Regions from separate parts of the Homo sapiens genome. Here regions 2 and 3 are each linked to region 1. The links come from fine-mapping of genetic effects on gene expression. A gene starts in region 1. Each other region holds a variant in brackets. All regions are shown on one strand. Distances are between the middles of the regions.

Region 1 (7,281 bases):
ATTCTTACTAAAAGAACCTACTGAAGGATTTCCTTTATCATGAAGGAAATTAGGCTGGGTGCAGTGGCTCATGCCTGTAATCCCAGCACTTTGAGAGGCTGAGGCAGGTGGATCACCTGGGGTCAGGAGTTCAAGACCAGCCTGGCCAACATGGTGAAACCCCATCTTTACAAGAAATACGAAAAGTAGCCAGGTGGTGACATGCACCTGTAATCCAAGCTACTAGGGAGGCTGAGGCAGGAGAATTGCTGGAACCCGGGAGGTGGAGGCTGAAGTGAGCTGAGATTGAACCACTGCACTCTAGCCTGGGTGACAGAATGAGACCATGTCTCAAAAAAGAAAAAAAAAAAAAAAGGAAATTAAACTCATGAGGAAGAAGTAGTATACAAATACACAAAGAGAAACAATGACCAAACAAACAATGCAGAGAAGACTCTTGCCTAAGATCATATTACCCTTAAGTAGTATAATCAGTATTTGTACCCAGGTTGTCTGACAGCTTAGCCCAGGCTCTTAACTTTTACAGTCCATACATCTCTATGAGGACTCTTTCAAAAGTCTCATGAGGTAATGTACAGGACAGTATTTCAGACTTTTTTTGAATTTCAATATTCAATCACTATTTTATTTTATTTTATTTTATTTTATTTTTTGAGACAAGGTCTCACTCTGTCTTTCAGGCTGGAGTGCAATGACACAATTGATCCCCACTCACTGCAGCCTTGGCCTCCAGGCCTCACACAATTCTCCTGCCTCAGCCTCCTGAGTAGCTGGGACTACAGGGGCATGCCACCATGCCTGGCTAATCAGTCAGTATTTATTGATCATCTGTAATGAGAATCTAAGAAGGTCCCAGAGAATCAAAATATCAGATCCTTTTTACTCTTTCTCAAATTGGGGAGGAATGAGTCTTCTTTTTTTTTTCCAGAATAATTTATTCACATCCAGTATCCATTTTGTATTTTTTTCCCGTGATGCACTGTGACAGGTGTTCTAGGTACAAGAGGTGGAAGAACCATTATTCCATAGTTCTTGATTTCAAGGAGCTTACAGTCTAAGAAAAATGTTTTCTAAAAAAAGGTAGACAGTGTTATATGCCTTGAGAGAGAAATAGATGTTGTGAGGGGAGTTCAGAGGAGAGATTATCTTTGCTCTGTGTGATGGGGGATGTAGTGCCCATTTGCTGGACTTTGAAAGACAAACAGGACGGCGATTAACACCAGTGATTTATTGAGTATCTACTTGTGTGCATGGAGCTATGTTTGGAGCTTTTTATCCTGATCTCATTTATTTCTCACAATAACCCTGTTAGGTCAATATGGTCACTCTCAAACATGAGAAGACTGAAGCTCATTAAAAATAGGTGGCAGATGCTGGACGTGGTGGCTTGCCTGTAATCCCAGCCCTTTGGGAGGCCGAGGCAGGCGGATCACTTGAGGCTGGGAGTTGGAGACCAGCCTGGGCAACACGGTGAAACCCGTCTCTACCAAAACTACAAAAATTAGCCGGGCGTGGTGGCAGGCGCCTGTAATCCCAGCTACTCGGGAGGCTGAGGCAGGAGAATCACTTGATCCTGGGAGGCAGAGGTTGCAGTGAGCCGAGATCGTGCCACTGCATTCCAGCCTGGGTGACAGAGCGAGACCCTGGCTCAAAAAAAAAAAAAAAAAAAAAATGTGGCCGGGTGCGGTGGCTCAAGCCTTTAATATCAAAGCACTACAGCACTTTGGGCGACCAAGGCGAGCGGATTGTTTGAGCTCAGGAGTTTGAGACCAGCTTGGGCAACAAGGTGAAAACCCGTCTGTACAAAAATATAAAAATTAGCTGAGTGTGGGTGGCGCGCGCCTGTAGTCCCAGCGCTACTCACGAGGCTGAGGTGGGAGGATCGCTTGAGCGCGGGAGGTAGAGGCTGGAGTGAGTCGTGATTGCACCATTGCACTCGAGCCTGGGTGACAGAGCAAGATCCTGTCTCAAGAAACAAACAAACGTACAAAAAAAAAAAAAAACCCCACAAAATATCCAAGTGACTTGCTTAAAGTCACACAATTAGTAAATGGAACCAGACATAGGCTAAAGGCAGACCAAGCCTTGAATCTAGATTAGGCTGGTTCCAAATTCCCTGCCCTTTCATCTCCCTAACAGTTTGTTTTCTTTCTCTCTTTCTTTCTTTTTTTAAAAAATAAAATAAATTTCCTAATTATTTATGTAGCACTTTCTCTTAGCATAACAGTTTTTAGAGTAGGTTAACTTTTTTTTCCATTTCCAAAAGTCAATTATTATCTATTCTGGTTCAAATGCCAGGTCCTTTTATGGCAGAGATTCTCAAAAAAGTGATCCGCGGAGGAGTTGCACCATTAGGTCACTGGGGTAGTCTGCAAAAGTGCAAATTTCCAGACCCCATTCTCAAAGATTCTGAGTACGTTTGAGATGAGACCCAGAGAACCTGCATTTTTTTGTTTTTAAACAAACGTATTCAGCCTCTCTTGAGAACCACTGTGCCTAGAATGTCTTTGGGAAGCTTTTGGAAGTAATAAGTTCGTTTTGGAAAGAACACTCCAGACAAGCTTTCCAATAGTCTTTCCCAAACTGTCATGCCTGAGGTTCTGGACTTACTCTTACTCATTCCTGAGAGCACAGCGACTAGCTGAAGGACTGATCGACTGATGAGGGTTTGACCTCATCTACATACATCTCAATTTAGCAGCACATATTAAGCTAGCTGGCAAACTGCTTAAAGCCACATGGGAAATCTGCGCGTTGGGCTATGTCTGGAAGATACGGAGGAGCAAGCCAGACCTGACCGGTCAGGTAGTGAAGACACGGAATCCGAAACCCAAATATTTCAGGAGTCAATTCTCAGAGAAAGATAAGAAGCCCGGTTAGTCCAACTCATGCGCAGGCGCAGAAGAAAGACCGGCGCACAAAGTAAGACGCGCCCTTCCCCACCCTATTTCAGTCCAACTCCCACTGCGCAGGCGCTTACAGTGCACCAAGATGGCCGCCCCCGTGGATCTAGAGCTGAAGAAGGTAAAAGAGGGTCTTTGGCAGGCGGAGGTCTTCTTTTTGGAGGCTGAGGGGACTATAGACAAGAATATCAAGTGAGGCACGAGCCTTGCAGAAGGAAGGAGGGTCCAGTGGACTAGGGAATGGTTTCCCAGAGTCCTAAGGCCTCACTGGGTCTCCATAAACGGGGTGGGGGGCGAGCGGCTCTTGCTGGGTAGGAGCCGGTTGGTCTGGGTCGGGTAAGTCTGCGGGCCTGTCTCGGGCTTGTCCAGTCTTTCTGAGCTCCAGAGACATTTCGTTGCGTTTGGAGGCTTCAGGGACTCACTTTCATAGTAAGAACTAAAGAGAGCATTTCAAATGGGGGTCCCTTCGGACCCCTTGCCTGAGCTGTGGCATCCGTAATTCTGCCTCATTTGCTTTGAAAAACTCCAAGTCCAACCTTTGTTTTTAGGCCATTTATTCGGTTCTGTACCTTGAAAGTTGCAATATCTACAGTTCGGAAAACCAAGCATTGTAGCAGCAATGTTCATTTCAGGATTTTGCCCCCCCTCCACTTCTTTTGAAGGACTCGTCAAACAAAACAAAACAAAACCTCCTTCTTTTGAAGGAATTGTCAAAAACAAAACAAAACCAGTAAAGTTTTCCAAATAAAACCGGTATCGGAAGGAATTGGGTTTCCTGTTTTCCTCAGTTGCTTATAAATGTGTTGTTATTCAGATTTTTGCTATCTAAGAATGATCAGCATTCTAACACCACTAATGACCCCAAACCAGTATGCTTTGTGCGGTGGGGTGGATTGGAAAGGACCCTAGAATTTATCTATTTTAAATCTACTTTTCTGGAAAAGGAACCAGTGCCAGAAAAGTCTGTCAGAAGTTGGGACTAGAATCCAGTATTCTCTGCCTTATCTCACACTTTTTTGACCACTATTTTGAGTTCTTCAGATGAGCAACATCTTAGTTAAGACTGCCTGTGGTCAACTTGTGTAAAAGAAATAGGACAGCCGAAATAGCTGTTGCTTCTAACAAATGAAGCTTTTGTTAGTGTTGTGAGGATATTATGTGTTTGTGTCTTGCTTTTGTTCTTCTTGTCTTGAATCTTGTAAATTTAGCTCTTAGGTGGAGTCTCTAATCTTTAACAGTATACTAGCTCATCTTTAATGGTATACTAGCTTCCTTAGCAAGCTGTATAGAGCAGTCAGATGATACCTGGAATTTTACATTTCAAAACAAAATTGTGCATTCTAAAAATTTACCTTTTCTTCTGTTAAAAGTACCGATTTAAATCAGGGTTTAGTGAATGGATTTGCCTCCCGGTACTTTTGAATTTATTGCTACATTTGAAACTTGCGGGCGGTGAATGCAAACTAAGAAAATGATTACAAACTTAAAATGAATAATTTTGATAACCAATTAATTAAAAAACTTGTTTAAAGGTTTTATCTTCTAATGTTTTTACAGGGTCCTTTTTTTGGGTGGAGACAAATAGGAAATTTCAGGCCCCTCCCCTTCCCCAAAGTAAATCTTTCAAAACCTTACTAGTAGGTGAAAACAAGGTCACAATAAAAATTATGTAGTAGCCTTTGCTGTGCATTGCAGTCACAGATGTTATTAAGGCACAAATTTAACAGCATGTGAAAGTCATTCCAGGCACTTCAACAAAAGTATCCAAGAACTGTTTATCTTCCAGTTAAGTAAGTGTACGCAAGGGTCAAATTTGGCCTGGTATCTGTGGATGAAGATCATGATGCAATTCTTTTGCCAGTGCTTTGCATTTTTTCTCACTCTCTTTCTTGGTCTTCCTCTTAAAAATGTTCATATTATGAATATTACTATAGACAGTGGAATGGAAAGATTGCTGAACTAAGGGGTTAGAAGAAATGGATTTAAATAACACCTGCCTTCCCCCCAGTAGTTGTTCAACCTTGTGCAAGCCACTTTTATCTCTTAACTCATTTGGTTACTTAATTTGTAAATTGTGGATGATGAGACTGCCAATGCTAACTCATGGAATTACTGAGAGGCATAAATGAGATATTTATTATATTTCCTCATTAATATTCTTATATTAATATTCCCATGTTAATATTTCAAACTAATGTGAGAAAGTGCTTTGAAACCTAATTGTGCAATACAAATGTAGTGAGTTATTACTTTTATGGTTCTTGTTTTGAATCTCTGGATTTCATCCTTGACTATTGCATTTATTTCTTTTACTACTCCTTGAGTACTTGCTACTTAATATGGTTATTACTTAATATGCATTTGATTTGCTTCACACTGATTGTATCTTCTGATGATTGTAAATTCAGTATTTAGTATGGTGACTTGATTGTTTACAGTTATGTTGACTTTTATTGATGTTTGGTAAATTTCACAGCTTTGTCTCTGGCTAGCATATTTTGTTTTAATATATTTGGATTTGAGGTAAATGTTTCCTGTAAAATGTTTTACCTACTAAATCATGGACTTGTTTTTATTAGGCCTTCACAGAGCTTCAAGCCAAAGTTATTGACACTCAACAGAAGGTGAAGCTCGCAGACATACAGATTGAACAGCTAAACAGAACGAAAAAGCATGCACATCTTACAGATACAGAGATCATGACTTTGGTAGATGAGACTAACATGTATGAAGGTGTAGGAAGAATGTAAGTAAAATGTGTCCTTAATGGAGTTATTTTGGGAGTGCTTTTGTCCGAGTTAAATAGAATTTGTTCATCTTAAAACTTGGGTTAGGCCAGGAGTGGTGGCTCATGCCTGTAATCCTGGCACTTTGGGAGGTCGAGGCGAGTGGATCACTTGAGGGCAGCCTGTTGGCCAGTATGGTGGAACCCTGTATCTACCACAAATACAAAGATTAGCTGAGCATGGTGGCACTTGCCTGTAGTCTTGGCTACTTGGGAGGCTGAGGCAGGAGAGTCGCTTGAACCCCGGAGGTGGAGGTTGCAGTGAGCCGAAATCATGCCACTGCACTCCAGCCTGGGCAGCAGAGCTAGACTCTGTCTCAAAACAAAAGAAACTTTGGTTTAAAGTAAGTATCTTTTTCTTTTTGAGACGGAGTTTTCGCTATATCGCCCAGGCTGGAGTGCAATGGCCCGATCTTGGCTCACTGCAATCTCCGTCTCCTGGGTTCAAGCGATTCCCCTGCTTCAGCCTCCTGAGTGACTGGGATTACGGGCGCTTGCCACCACGCCCTGCTAATTTTTGTGTTTTTAGTAGAGACGGGGTTTTACCATATTTGCCAGGATGGTCTGGAACTCCTGACCTCCTGATCCGCCCACCTCAGCCTCCCAAAGTGCTGGATTACAGATATGAGTCACCACACCCGGCAGGTTAAAGTATCTTAGAAATAACTTTAAAGATTATCTAATTAAATGCTTTCTTTTTTTAAAATGAGGAGCTGAACTTCAGGTAGATTAATTAAAGTGTTTAAGTTTAGACTTTAAAGTACATTTTTTTTTTTTTTTTGAGACAGAGTCTCGCTCTGTTGCCAGGCTAGAGTGCAGTGGTGTGATTCTGGCTCACTGCAACCTCCGCCTCTTGGGTTCAAACAATTCTGCCTCAGCCTCCTGAGTAGCTGGGACTACAGGCGCATGCTACCATGCCCGGCTAATTTTTGTATTTTTAGTAGAAATGGGGTTTTACCGTGTTGGCCAGGATGGTCTCAATCTCTCCTCTTGATCCGCCCGCCTTGGCCTCCCACAGTGCTGGGATTACAGGCGTGAGCCACCGCCCCTGGCCTCAAAGTACATTTCTTAAGTGCTTACTTTCCTGTTCTGTCTATGATTAGGTACTTAAGTGTAAGTTCAGTAATAAAAATGATTTGTCATGGAAAATGTTTATAGCAATATTATATTGTATGTGAAGAAGATTTATTTAAGTAGGTGCAGTTTTAACCTCCTCTTCCCTGCTTAATTTATTAGGAGTGATACAAATCATAAATCTTTCAGATGTCTGATCAGTGTTGTAAAATAAAAATAAAAATTCAATTGTCATTTAAATACACTCATTCTGGCCAGGCATAGTGGCTCATGCCTGTAATCTCAGCACTGCAGGAGGCCAAGGTGGGTGGATCCCCTGAGGTTAGGGGTTTGAGACCAGCCTGGCCAACATGGTGAAACCCCATCTCTACTAAAAATACAAAAATTAGCGAGGCATGGTGGCGCACACCTGTAATCCCAGTTACGAGACTGAGGCAGGAGAACTGCTCGAACCCAGGAGGTGGAGGTTGCAGTGAGCCGAGATTGCGCCATTACACTCCAGCCTGGGCAACAAGAGTG
Region 2 (7,281 bases), 100 kb after region 1:
CTCTGTCGCACAAGCTGGAGTGCAGTGGCTCAATCCTAGTTCACTGTAGCCTGGAACTCCTGGACTCAGGTGATCCTCCTGCCTCAGCCTCCTGAGCAGATCGGACTACAGGCACGCACTACCACACCTGGATAATTTTCTTTTATTATTTGTAGAGATGTGTGGTGTCTTAGTACGGTGCCTAGGCTGGTGTCGAACTCCTGGCCTCAAGCGATGCTCCTGTCTCAGCCTCCCAAAGTGCTGGGACTACAGGCATGAGTTTCCTGCACCTGGCAGGAAACTTATATTCTAGTTAAAACTTACTGACCCTGGAAAGTCACTAAACTTCTCTGGGCTTCAGTTTAAATGTCTCTAAAAAGAGGGGGTTAACCTAGCAAGGAATGGTAAATGGGTTCGTCTTACTCCTAACAATTCAAATCTATTCACGGTTCCTGTCTAGAATGCTGGGGTATGCTGAAGCTGTATTCACGCTTAGTGAAAGGAGCTGTAATTGCCTAGTGATGTTTGCTATAAGGTCAGAGGGTAATAACTAACCCAGATGATCATGTGAGGACTCTTCTACTTCTGATGATTCAAGGTATCTGAGTGGAAGTCATTTCAATTTGGTGATAAAATAAAAAACCCCCTTCTTCCATGACTTTCTAACCAATTCACAGGAGTATCCTTAAAATGACAGATCACCTATATTCTGATATAAGCCTAGTTATAGTGTTTAATTTTTCACTTTAAACAGTTATGATACTATGGCATATTTATTAGAATCTAGAAATAGTTTTGTTATTTAGAATGTTTCAGTCAACAGGAATTCACCTGTCACCACTGAAACTTGTGGTAATGTTTCCAAAGATCTCCCATCCCATATGCCTTTTTGCAATGTGACTTACCACTCTCCCAACAAGGAATGAAGTCTATTTTCCTCCCCTTGAAACTAGGCTAGATAGACTTCATGTTGCTTTGACCAAGAGTGTGATGGATGTGACATTGTGTGACTTCTGAGCCAAGGGGGTGAAAAAGCCTGATGGATCATTGTATTGTGGCTATGTAAGGTTTGGGGAAATCGGGATGAAAGGTATACAGAACCATTTGTATTATCTTTGCAATGTTTTTCTAAGTCTGAAATTGTTTCAAAATTAGAAGTTAAATCGAAAGTTTTTTGTTTCATTTCTTTTTTAAGGCTTTTATTTTATGTTCAGGGGTACATGTGCAGGAAGGCCTGGCAGATTCCATTCTTGCATTGTAACATGGAAAAAACCCACCTACTCTGAAACTCTCATGCTGTGACAGCAGCACTGAGAGACCATGCAGAGGGACAGAGACAACCAACCCTACGCTGTTTCAATCATGTCAGCTGAAATACCAGACGTGATTTTTTTTTCTTTTTGGATTTGAGATAATTTCTTGTTATAATGAGCCAGAATTACAAGGTTCCATTGGAACTGAAACAGCTGACAGAATAGGGTTGAAGTTAATCAAATCTTCAAGGACAATAAGATCAAACAAAGCCAGTAGAAGTGGAGAAACCCAACACTGGTTTGGAATGCACACAGAAATACTAGCATGTAGGTGCCTCCTGACCCCTCCCAGCAGTTGGACATCATGCTCCCACCCCTTTCTCCCTTCTAAAGCACTGGCCAAACCAAATGGCTTCTTTCTCTGTATTGCAAGTGTAAGTCAATCCAAGAGTACCCTTTTGGACATAATACAAAGCCAAGAAGAAAGTTGATGGATCATATTGGACGGTAGAAAGTGTACAAATCCAACCCAGCAAATTGCTTATCATTATCTACGTTCCAGCCTCAGTAGGTGCCAACAAGGAGCAGAGATGAATCAATCTTTCTGCTCAAGCCCTGTCCAAATTATGGAACCTCTAAGATTGGGGGTGGTTTGTGACGTAACAATAGATAACCAAAACATACATCAACCTTCCACCTATGGCAAATGCCTTAAATTCTGCTCTGGCAAGATCTGGCTGCCAAATGGACCTTTTGGATCTAATCCTTAGGGTGAGATCAGTTTCACATTGTTCTTTGCTAAGTGCTTTTGTTTCCAGAGTTCATTTTATACAGTACCACTGCTCTTATTTCAATAAGATTTATCTTCAGTATAACTTAAGAATATTAGCAGGCCAGGCGCAGTGACTCATGCTTGTAATCCCTGCACTTTAGGAGGCCGAGGAGGGTGAATCACCTGAGGTCAGGAGTTTGAGACCAGCCTGGCCAATACAGTGAAATCCCATTTCTACTAAAAATACAAAAATTAGCTGGGCTTGGTGGCGTATGCCTGTAATCCCAGCTACTCGGGAGGCTGAGACAGGAGAATCACTTGAACCTGGGAGGCGGAGGTTGCAGTGACCCGAGATTGCGCCACTGCACTCCAGCCTGGATGACAGAGCAAGACTCCGTCAAAAAAAAAAAAAAAAAAAAAAAGAGTATTAGAGGATTCCCCCACTTTCTGGTAGGAGGGTTTTCTTCTCCCTGCAATGTTTGTTCCCTCAGAATCCCTTTTTTCTGTTTGGATCATCATCTTTTATCTTGGAGGCTTTCTTTACTCAGATGTCTGGTGAACCTCCGTTGCTGGTTAATATCTAAGGCTAAGGTTCTATCACTTGTAGCCTTAAGAGTCTTGACCAAAACAAACAGTGAAAGCCTAAACACTAAGAGCAAGGTTGATTGAATTCAGACATAAAAAAGCTAAAATGGACTGTACATAAGGTAGACACTATTGAATCTGGAGCAAGAAGAAGGGCTCTGAAAGAAGTCTGTATAGGGTGCAGTTGAAGCAAATAGGAGTGGTAAATTCTACTGGAGGTATAGTATAGGTAAGCAAAAGCTTCAAGGAAGAAGAGATATTTTCTTTTGATCGCCAGAGATGTGTAGGGTAGGTTGTGGCAGAGTGGGAATGAGAGGTGGGAAGTAAAGGAAGCAGCATGAACAAAGTTAGGGTATATGGACCAGTATGGCAGGTTAGAGGCCTTACCTACATATAGACTACCTAGATGATAATATTCTGGATTTCAAGCTGATGTAATTATTGGATGAGACATCTAGTGGTGGTGGAAGGGGGTGGATATATTTTGCATATGAGGGGGATGTAAATTGTTGAGAGCAAAGGGCAGAATGTGGTGGACTGTTTGCACAGACGGTCACCAATTCCTCTCACCCTGTATTCACATGCCATTCCTCCAGGATGGAGTCTATTTTATACAAATGTTTATAACAGCCATTATTCATTATTCCTAATAGCCATAAAGTAGAAACAACCTAAATGCCCATCAACCAATGAAAGGATAACTAAAACGTGGTATATCCACAATGGAATATTATTTGGCAATAGGAAGGAATAAAGTATTGATACATGCTACAACATAGATGAACCCTGGAAATATCAAGCTAAGTGAAAGAAGCATGTAACAAAAGACCAAATATTGTATGGTTCCATTTATACAAAATGTCCAGAACAGACAAATCTATAGAGACAGAGTAGATTAATGGTGGGGAAGAGGCCGGGCGCGATGGCTCACGCCTGTAATCCCAGCACTCTGAGAGGCTGAGGTGGGCGGATCATCAGGTCAGGAGATCAAGACCATCCTGGCTAACACGGTGAAACCCCGTCTCCACTAAAAATAAAAAAATTAGCTGAGCATGGTGGCAGGCATCTGTAGTCCCAGCTACTCGGGAAGCTGAGGCAGGAGAATGGCGTGAACCCGGGAGGCAGAGTTTGCAGTGAGCCGAGATTGTGCCACTGCACTCCAGCCTGGGCGACAGAGTGAGACTCTGCCTCAAAAAAAAAAAAAAAAAAAAAGGCCGGGGGGAAGAGTGGAAGGAAATGGGGAGAGATTGCTAAAGGGTTTCTTTTTGGGGTGATGAAAGTGTTCTGTATATAGACCAATGGAACAGAACAGAGGCCTCAGAAATAACACCACACATCTATAACCACTTGATCTTTGACAAACCTGACGAAAACAAGCAATGGGGAAAGGATTCCCTATTTAATAAATGGTATTGGGAAAACTAGCTAGCCATGTGCAGAAAACTGAAACTGGACCCCTTCCTTATACCTTATACAAAAATTAACTCAATATGGATTAAAGACTTAAACGTAAGACCTAAAACCATAAAAACCCTAGAAGAAAACCTAGGCAATACCATTCAGGACATAGGCATAGGCAAAGACTTCATGGCTAAAACACCAAAAGCAATGGCAACAAAAGCCAACACTGACAAATGGGATCTAATTAAACTAAAGAGCTTCTGCACAGCAAAAGAAACTATCATCATCCCATATGTAGGCAACCTACAATATGGGAGAAAATTTTTGCAATCTATCCATCTGACAAAGGGCCAATATCCACAATCTACAAGGAACTTAAACAAATTTATGAGAAAAAAACAACCCCATCAAAAAGTGGGCAAAGAATATGAACAGACACTTCTCAAAAGAAGACATTTATGCGTCCAAAAACATATGAAAAAAAGTTCATCATCACTGGTCATTAGAGAAATGCAAATCAAAACCACAATGA[G/C]ATACCATCTCACGCCAGTTAGAATGGTGATCATTAAAAAGTCAGGAAACGGCTGGGCACCGTGGCTCACGCATGTAATCCCAGCACTTTGGGAGGCCAAGGTGGGCAGAACACTAGGTCAGGAATTCAACACCAGCCTGACCAATATGGTGAAACCTCATCTCTACTAAAAATACAAAAATTACAGCCATGGTGGCGCATGCCTGTAATCCCAGCTACTCAGGGGGCTGAGGCAGGAGAATCGCTTGAACCCCGGAGGTGGAGGTTGCAGTAAGTCAAGATCGCGCCACTGCACTCCAGCCTGGGCGACAGTGTGAGACTCCATCTCAAAAAACACAAAACAAAAACAATAAAAAGTCAGGAAACAATAGATGCTGGAGAGGATGTGGAGAAATAGGAACACTTTTACACTGCTGGTGGGAGCGTAAATTAGTTTAACCATTGTGGAAGACAGTGTGGTAATTCCTCAAGGATCTAGAACCAGAAATACCATTTGACCCAGCAATCCCATTACTGGGTATATACCCAAAGGATTATAAGTCATTCTACTATAAAGACACATGCACAGGTATGTTTATTGCAGCATTATTCACAATAGCAAAAACTTGGAACCAACCCAAATGCCCATCAATGATAGACTGGATAAAGAAAATGTGGCACATATACACCATGGAATACTATGCAGCCATAAAAAAGGATGAGTTCATGTCCTTTGCAGGGACATGGATGAAGCTGGAAACCATCATTCTCAACAAACCAACACAGGAACAGAAAACCAAACACCACATGTTCTTACTCATAAGTGGGAGCTGAACAAAGAGAACACATGGACACAGGGAGGGGAACACCACACACTGGGGCCTGTCGGGGAGTTGGGGGGCTAGGGGAGGGATAGCATTAGGAGAAATACCCAATGTAGATGACGGGTGCAGCAAACCACCATGGCACATGCATACCTATGTAACAAACCTGCACATTCTGCACATGTATCCTAGAACTTAAAGTATAATAATAAAAGAAAATGTTCTGGAATTATGATAGTGGTGATGGTTGAAAAACTCTGTTGATATACTGAAAACCATTGGATTGTACAACTTTAAATGGGTAAATTGTATGGTACATGAATTGTATGTCGAATATACCAAAAAAAGAGGGGGAGGAGGAAGGTGATATCTGTTCCCCCTCCTGTTGAAAGTGACTGGCCTTGAGACTTGTTTTGAATACTGGAATAAGGGGTAAGTGATGCTGTGCCAGTTCTGGGCCTAGCCCAAAATCCTGGCAGCTTCCACTTTCACTCTATTGGAAGCTAGTTGTCATGTAAAGCAGCTTAAGCTAGACCACCTAATGATGACAGACTATGTGCTGAGAGAGGCCTCGTGGAGGCAAACCAAGACCCTACTCATGTCAGTGAGGTCATCTTGGATAGCCTACACCCAGACAGGCTGACAGCTGAATTAAGTAACAAGAGTGACCCCACGAAAGATCACACGAAGCAAGAAGAGCCTCCCAGCCAACTCAGAGAATCATGAGAAATAATAAATCATTGTTGTTTTAAGCCAGTGAGTTGGGGGTGATATGTTATACAACAGATAACTGAAACAACCTTTCTGAGTCTCAGATTCCACTCCTATAACATGGGACTGATACTATGGGGTTGTTGTGAAGATTACATAAAGCTAACACCAAGCATGGTGCTCAACAAATACTAGTTGTTATTCTTAAAAACCACCCAGGAGATCCTTGACATAATCTGCAGGTATGCTCTTCTGGGAGACCTTATTCCTACAAGCACTTGCTGCTTCCAATCACATGGCTTCCAAAAGGTTGGCTTCTTAAAAAAACAAAAGGTGGGTTTTTTTGCTACAATCTCTGACACATGAATTCTAAAACATAAACAGATGACCAAGGAAGGTTCTGCTTAGGTTAGCCATCTACCCGACCCTGCTCATCCATTCATCACACCTTTATTAAGCCCTAACTAATTACCAGACGCCAATTAAGGATAAAGGAGATCCTCCCTCCTTTGAAAAAGAAACCATTTCTACCTATGTATCCATTAACATAATATGCCACACACTTGAACTTGAGTGGAGAGAGTATCTACAGTAGTAGATAAATCTAAAATCATTCAGCTGGAAAGAAAAAGCTTAAATTTCCATATAGAGCTCAGATACACAGCATGAGAACACATAATTCTGACTGAGAATCCCACAAGCAATACCAAAGCAAGGAATAAAATGGGTCCCTAAAGGGTTCATCACTCAGTGAGGCTACATTCTTCCAAGAGTCCCATTCACAGAACATGGACCCCAGGTGACAAAATTTGACCATTTGGCACTACCTGCTATGTTTGGGTGCAGAAAGGATCTGGGCAGTTAATAATTCACAAGCTAATGACAGAGAAATAAATTCCTGGGTATATCCATAGGAAAGGATATTAAACAGCTTTCAACTGCATTTGTGAAATCAATCGTGATTGGTAACACTGAACTAAGGAGCCTTTTAACCCTAAAAAGAATTAAGAAATTATTTTTCATCAAAAAGGCTGACATCAATACTTAAATTACATGAAAGGTAAGAAAGATGACCAAATCTGTATTTTCTGCATGAACAGTGGACAAAGTCCACTGAACCTAGGAAGCACTTATTCTAAACAAACTCAATAAAGTTCTAAACTCATCAAATGCTAGTTAGAGAGTCAGTATAAACAATATTGGCCTAGAAATGGACAGGAAGACCATGAGGGCTATAGGTGAAAG
Region 3 (7,281 bases), 24 kb after region 1:
AGACAGGATCTTGCTCTGTTACCCAAGCTGGAGTGCAGTAGCACAATCATGGCTCACTACAGCTTTGATATCTCAGTCTCAATTGATCCTCCCACCTCAGCCTCCCTAGTAGCTGGGACTACAGGCGTGTGCCACTGTGCCTGACTAATATTTTAAATTTATTTTTTGTAGAGATGGGTCTCATCATGTTGCCTGGGCTAGTCTTGAACTCCCAGGCTCAAGCAGTCCTCCTGCCTCGGCCTCTCAGAGTGCTGGGATTACAGGTGTGAGCCACTGTGCCCAACTCCCGCAACCCCCCCGCTTTTTTTTTTAATGAGACAGGGTCTTGCTATGTTGCCCAGACTAGACTCAGACACCTGGGCTCAAACAATCCTCCCACCTCAGCCTCCTGAGTATCTGGGACTGTAGGCCCACACCACTGTTCCCTGCCTGATTCCTATATTAAATAAGAAAGCAGAATCTACTTTTAAGCCTTTATTCCTTCTCAGCCAAGAAGGTTTAAACTTCTGGTGGTTTCCTGAGCTTGACGTATTATGTTAATATGCATTTGTCCTTTTAATTTGCTCAGTTTAATATTTGTAGTATGTAGCTATTGATTTCGATGAATTCAATAGTCATGTGGCTTAATTTTCAACTTTCTTGTGTTTCATAGGTTTATTCTTCAGTCCAAGGAAGCAATTCACAGTCAGCTGTTAGAGAAGCAGAAAATAGCAGAAGAAAAAATTAAAGAACTAGAAGTAAGTTTTTATTGGCAATAGGAGTTAACTTTTGGGAGAAAGTAGTAATCTTATTGTGTCATATTAAATGAAAATGTATGCCTGCCTGCCAAAGTAATGTCATATTATTTTTATTTTCTATAATTACGTTGGAGCCGTGAAGCTGTCATATTCATATTCATAGCGCATATAAGACCAAAACAAAAAAAAAAGAATAGTCTCTTCTTTGGAACTGCAGAGAATTTTGATGAGATGGTTTTAACCTGAATGTATTTTGTTCATTGCCCTTGAATGTGTTTATTCTTTAAAAAAAACAAAACCATAAACAAAATGTAATGTATATTTAAACAACACTTGTGTAGTGGATTGTGGTGGATGGGCAGGAGAGTGGGTAATAATGATAAATTTTAGAGGATCTTGGTATAGGGTCTTTTTTACACATTGTAATTTCTTTAACCTAAATTAGGTTCTATATAAGGACAAAGTAGCAAGCTATAACCAATTAACTATCTGAAGGATGGTGCTCCAATGAGAACAATTTTTTCTTTTTAGCTAGGGAAAAAGATGATAGGTAACAGTAAGCAAATCTTTGGAAATATTACTTTATTATTTTTATTATTATAATTTATTTATACATTAAGACCTTTAGTGAGATATTCTTCTTGGGCTTTGGTGAAAGGCCCATCCTGTGTATAGTAAAAGTTAGACTGGACAAAAAGCTGGTTATTTCTTAGGGACCAAGATTTCCCAACATGTGGGTGGATACATTGACTTCATAGGTCATTTCATCTAATTTCTGTAAGTACTATTTGAGGCAGAGGATCAGAATCTAACTCAGCCCTCTGCTGAATTTGGGAGCTACAACTTGTAGCCTCCTGAGGATTTCTTAGGGGCACTGAATTGGCCTGGCCTGGGAGTATGCAGTATCTTAGGTTACTTAGGCTTATTTTTAACTACTGATAGTTGAAACAAACTTGATAATAGATTTGCAGCTTAGAAAAGTGTATTGTAAAAACAAGACAAAAAAGCAAAAAAACCAAGTAAAGAAAAAACAGCCTGTGATAACCAGATTGTTGTTGTGTCCTATTTTAACATTTTAATCAGCTCAACTGTTCTAAGAGGTTCAGTTTGATATCTGTGTTTTCACTCATAAGAAACAAAAGTATCTTTAAAAACCCAAACAGAATCATTTCATGTAGATAAAACAAAATGCATTTTTGCAACTGTAGGTAAATATATTTAAAATTATCCTAATGAATAATAAGTAGCAAGGTAATATGTATATAATTCTCTTTATGAAAACAAAAAACAAACATTTGTGTATGAATATTGAAGATGATATGTAAGGATATATATTAAATTGTTAATACTGTTTACCCTAAAGAAATTAGATGGGACGTAGGGATAAATGATTTTTTCTTTTTCTTTCTTTCTTTTCTTTTCTTTTCTTTTTTTGTTTTTTTTTTTTTTTTTTGAGACGGAGTTTCGCTCTTGTTGCCCAGGCTGAAGTGCAATGGTGTGATCTCGGCTCACTGCTACCTCCGCCTCCTGGCTTCAAGCGATTCTCCTGTCTCAGCTTCCCAAGTAGCTGGGATTACAGGCATGCGCCACCACGCCCTGCTAATTTTGTGTTTTTAGTAGAGATGGGATTTCTCCTTGTTGGTCAGGCTGGTCTCGAACTCCCGACCTCAGATGATCTGCCTGCCTCGGCCTCCCAAGTGCTGGGAATCATAGGCCACTGCGCCTGGCCTTGATTTTTTTCTTACAATCTCTGTAATAATAAATTATAACAAGTATACATTAACTTTTTTTGTTGTTAACTTTCATGATTAAAAAATTAGCAGAGTGGGCACAGTGGCAAATGCTTGTAGTCCCAGCTACGGGAGGCTGAAGCGGGAGGATTGCCTGAGGCATTCCAGCCTGCGCAACATAACAAGACCTTGTCTCTTTAGGGAAAAAAAAAAACACAAAAACCCCAATTATCAAGGTGAAATTGCCACAGGTGATGATTTTATCAATACCGTACTGCTGAGTTCTGGTGAATATTAAGAAATTTACTTTCTGCAAGTTTCCTTTTGTTGAGTGTCTCAAATACTGGTAGAATGTTTTATCTTTTAGGAAGTTCTTTTTTCTTTTTTAATTTTTCATTTTACATGTTACTTACATTATAAAAGCAATAGAAGTACACCATAAATAAAATATAAAACAAATGATTAAACAATGAAAATATTACTTTGTTTTTCCACCCTCGGTACATCCA[A/C]ATGTCACCTCTACGGTTTCTGTATCATTCCAAACTTCTATATTTATATCAAGACATTCATACATGCATATATATACACAACCTTTTTTTAAAATAGGAATTATGCTATATATACTGTTTTCCATCATTTGACAGTTTATCTTGCTACTTTAGTAATATAACTCCAGTTTATATACAATTTCTTTTTTTGATTCCCATCATCATGGGCTCCTTACCATGAGCCTTATTTCAGCATTTAATATGTTCTCCAGTACTTCCCTAATCTGTGCTTTTAACAGTATCACCCAGTGTATACTCCCCTCTCTTCTCTGAAACAATCCTATACTTTTCCACTGCTACAACTTTATGGTTTTATTACTTCAGCACACCCCCACATGTGCACTTATGCACATATACACTGTTAATTGTGATGTTCAAATTTTGTGTGTATCTTACTGAATTATCATCTGCTTATTCATTTAGTTACTGAGAGATGTGATGAATCTTCCTCTATGACAGTGTTTATCAATTTCTCCTTAATCTGTCAGTTTAGTGGGCAGTGATATTTAGAGAATACAGTGTTGGGGGGGCAAGTGCTCATTATTACTGTATACGAAGTTTGGAGCTTATGTTTTGTTTTTTGTTTTTTTTTTTTTTTTTTTTTTTTTTTTTTGAGACAGAGTCTCATTCTGTCCCAGGCTGGAGTCCAGTGGTGTGTCTTGGCTCACTGCCACCTCTGCCCCAAAGGTTCAAGCGATTCTTCTGCCTCAGCCTCCTGAGTACCTGGGACTACAGGCCCACCATGCCTGGCTAATTTTTGTATTTTTAGTAGAGATGGGGTTTCACCATGTTGCCCAGACTGGTCTCGAACTCCTGACCTTGTGATCCACCCACCTTGGCCTCCCAAAGTGCTGGGATTACAGGTGTGAGCCACCATGCCTGACTGGGGCGTATGTCTTATTTTGTTTTATGTTAGGAATTTCTCAGCTCTTCTGTTTATATTTATTTATTTTTTATTGTTTTGAGATGGCATCTTGCTCTGTTGTCCAGGCTGGAGTGCAGTGGCATGATCTTGGCTCACTGCAGCCTCCGCCTTCTGGGTTCAAGCGATTCTTCTGCATCAGCCTCCTGAGTAGCTGGGATTACAGCCACCATGCCTGGCTACTTTTTGTATCTTTAGTAGAGACGGGGTTTGGGTTTCACCATGTTGGCCAGGCTGGTCTTGAACTCCTGACCTCCAGTGATCTCCCCACCTCAGCCTCCCAAAGTGCTGGGATTACAGGTGTGAGCCACAGCACCTGACCTGTCAGCTCTTTTAAAGATAACCATTCTACTGACTTGTGGCTTCCACTGTTGCTGTTAAGAAGTCATCTGTTAGTCTAATTGTTGTTAATTTGTCTTTTCTCTTTACCTGTTTTTACTTGTCTATGTCTTTCATGCTTTGTAGTTTCTCTGGGATGTGTTTAGGTGTCGATTTATTCCTTTTCTTTTTTTTTTTAATTTGAGATGGGGTCTCACTCTGTCACTCAGGTTGGCTTGTAGTTGGGTGATCTCAGCTCACTGCAGCCTCCACCTCCCAGGCTTAAGCAATCCTCCCACCTCAGCCTCCCAAGTAGCTGAGACCACAGGCATGCTACCACGCGTGGCTAATATTTTTTTCTTTATCTTAGTTAGAATTTGTTGGGTTTCCTGAATCTGAGGATTAGTGTTTTTTTTTTAATAAATTCTGGAAAATTTGTATTTCTGAAGATTACTTCTTCCTTATTTTGTTTATTAATGATATTTCCTTTTGGAATTTTTCCCCACCTTTGAACTGGCTGCCACCACCATCTGCAGTAGGATATTAACTGATTTTACCATATCCAGCCTTCTCTCGTTCAGTTCTTTTTATAACATATTTAAGTTAGAATGACCTTTCTAAAATGTTAAATCTGATCATATTACTCTCTCATGTAAAACCAATAGTTGTTCTTAGGGTTAAGTTCAAACTTTTTTTTTTTTTTTGAGACGGAGTTTTGATCTTGTTGCCCAGGCTGTAGTGCAATGGCATGATCTTGGCTCACTGCAACCTCCACCTCCTGGGTACAAGTGATTCTCCTGCCTGCCTCAGCCTCCTGAGTAGCTGGGACTACAGGCATGTGCCACTATGCCCAGCTAATTTTTTTGTATTTTTAGTAGAGACGGGGTTTCAACATTTTGGCCAGCCTGGTCTCGAACTCCTGACCTCGGGTGATCTGCCCGCCTTGGCCTCCCAAAGTGCTAGGATTATAGGTGTGAGTGAGCCACTGTGCCCAACCAGTTCAAACTTTTTAACATACCTTGAAGGCCTTTAAAGATATGATTTCTGTTTATTTCTCTCATCCCTCTCATTTCCTCTGCCTTCTGTTATACTGTATGCTTTAGCCATGCAAAAATACTCTCAGTCTTTTTTTTTTTTTTTTTTTTTTTTTGAGACGGTGTCTCACTCTGTCACCCAGGTTGGAGTGCAGTGGCGCTATCTTGGCTCACAGCAACCTCTGCCTCCTGGGTTGGAACAATTCTCCTGCCTCAGCAGGAGATCCCTTCTGGGATTACAGGTGTGTGCCACCACGCCCAGCTAATTTTTGTATTTTTAGTAGAGACAGGGTTTTGCATGTTGGCCAGACTGGTCTTGAACTCCTGACCTCAGATGATCCACCCACCTCTGCCTCCCAGAGTGCTGGGATTACAGGCATGAGCCACCACACTTGGCCAATACTCTCAGTCTTTGGAGCTTGCTCTTTTTTCATTCTGCTAGATCTTCGAAAAGTAGTTATCTCCACTTGGGAACTTCCTCCCTCTGCCTTTATCAATTCCATCTACTAATCCTTCAGATCTTAGCATAGAATTACTTCTCCTGAGAACCATTTTCTGATTCCTCAGTCTTAAGTTAGCTGCTTCTTTCTTGTGTTCTCTGGTTACTCTGTTAGTTTCTTAGCACATTGTAGGGATTTGGAAATATAAACTCTCACCAGTTGAGTAAATCATAAATATGGTTTCCTATTACTTTGGAAGCTTGATACAGATTTAGAGCTCTAAATGATTTTCCCCAAGTCCTTGGTGTTGCTCCTGTTTTCAAATCTGCAGTCTCTTCTTCTAGACCTAGTATTTCTTGTCAGTCTAATCTACTTCATTTTAATCCTCTGTAATTATCATCATCATCATCATCATCATCATCATCATCATCATCATCATCAATTTCTCTTCTGAGATACCCTGTATTAAGTTGGGGAGGCACAATTTATACCCAACTCTGTAGACAAAGGCCATGCTATTTCTATTTATCATGTTTTCATCTCTGAAAGAGTAAGGTTCATATTGGTTGGGGTCAGAGTTCCAGTTTTTGATAAAAGCTGTTAACTTGTTTTACTGATTTGGCCCACCGAGTATGCTTCCCCACCCTCTACCCACAGTTTGTGTAGATGGCAGGAGGGACAAACCTTTTCCATGACATAGGTGCTGGTCTGATTCAGGTTCTCTAACCTGATACCCCATTTTCATTAGTATTTGCTAGGTTCCCTTTTACCCAGCTTTGTTCTTTCTGTTTCTTTATACTTGCCCTCTCCTGATTTCTTTTTTCTGATCTTATTTATGAGTGCAAAGCTTACCTAGACTTTGTTTAGCTTTTTGTAGCTTTGTCATGTTGTGCCCTATGTCATCAGCCAGCCAAGTGGCCTCATCTACTGGCCCTTGTCTCTTATAGGCAGGGGTGGGGGTACTACTTGCCCTCATGTTAATCTTGATAGGGAGTCATATTCCTTATTAGCAGAATAAACACAAGCACTGTCTTTTTTTTTTTTTTTTGAGACAGAGTCTCGTTCTGTCTCCCAGGCTGGAGTGCAGTGGCGCAATCTCGGCTCACTGCAGGCTCCGCCTCCCAGGTTCACACCATTCTCCTGCTTCAGCCTCCCGAGTAGCTGGGACTACAGGCACACCCCGCCATGCCCAGCTAATTTTTTTTGTATTTTTAGTGAGACAGGGTTTCACCGTGTTAGCCAGGATGGTCTCAATCTTCTGACCTCGTGATCTGCCTGCCTTGGCCTCCCAAAGTGCTGGGATTACAGGTGTGAGCCACCGCGCCTGGCACAAGCAGTGTCTTAATGGTGGGAAGATAGTCTTACTGTCTTTTTTTTCCTTAGAACTTCTTTGTTGAACCTATGAATTGTACAAAGAATAAAGAAAACAAAAGAACTTCCTTTTACTTTTTTTTTTTTTTTTTTGAGATGAAGTCTTGCTTTGTTACCCAGGCTGGGGTGCAGTATCACAATCTCGGCTCACTGCAATCTCCATGTCCCAGGTTTAAGTGAT

What was found. PIP is the estimated chance that this variant, and not a neighbour inherited with it, causes the effect.
Region 2: its variant is the best candidate, but not a certain one, in a credible set for the expression of PFDN1 in whole blood (TOPMed, PIP 0.54).
Region 3: its variant is the best candidate, but not a certain one, in a credible set for the expression of PFDN1 in whole blood (INTERVAL, PIP 0.64).

Annotation. Positions count from the first base shown.
Region 1 is chr5:140,298,784-140,306,064 of GRCh38, reverse strand. PFDN1 (prefoldin subunit 1) reads left to right here and starts at 2,964. Exons shown (of 4, transcript NM_002622.5): 1 at 2,964-3,024; 2 at 5,483-5,649. The coding sequence starts at 2,992. RefSeq lists a silencer at 2,855-3,059 and enhancers at 2,948-3,227, 6,619-7,135.
Region 2 is chr5:140,197,078-140,204,358 of GRCh38, reverse strand. All of the region lies in intron 2 of CYSTM1 (cysteine rich transmembrane module containing 1), which reads right to left. Among named protein-coding and RNA genes, the nearest start is that of CYSTM1, 26 kb to the right of the region's middle. The variant G/C (reference allele first, on the strand shown) is at 4,523.
Region 3 is chr5:140,274,905-140,282,185 of GRCh38, reverse strand. PFDN1 (prefoldin subunit 1) reads left to right here. Exons shown (of 4, transcript NM_002622.5): 3 at 653-737. Among named protein-coding and RNA genes, the nearest start is that of PFDN1, 25 kb to the left of the region's middle. RefSeq lists enhancers at 6,342-6,842, 6,843-7,281. The variant A/C (reference allele first, on the strand shown) is at 2,977.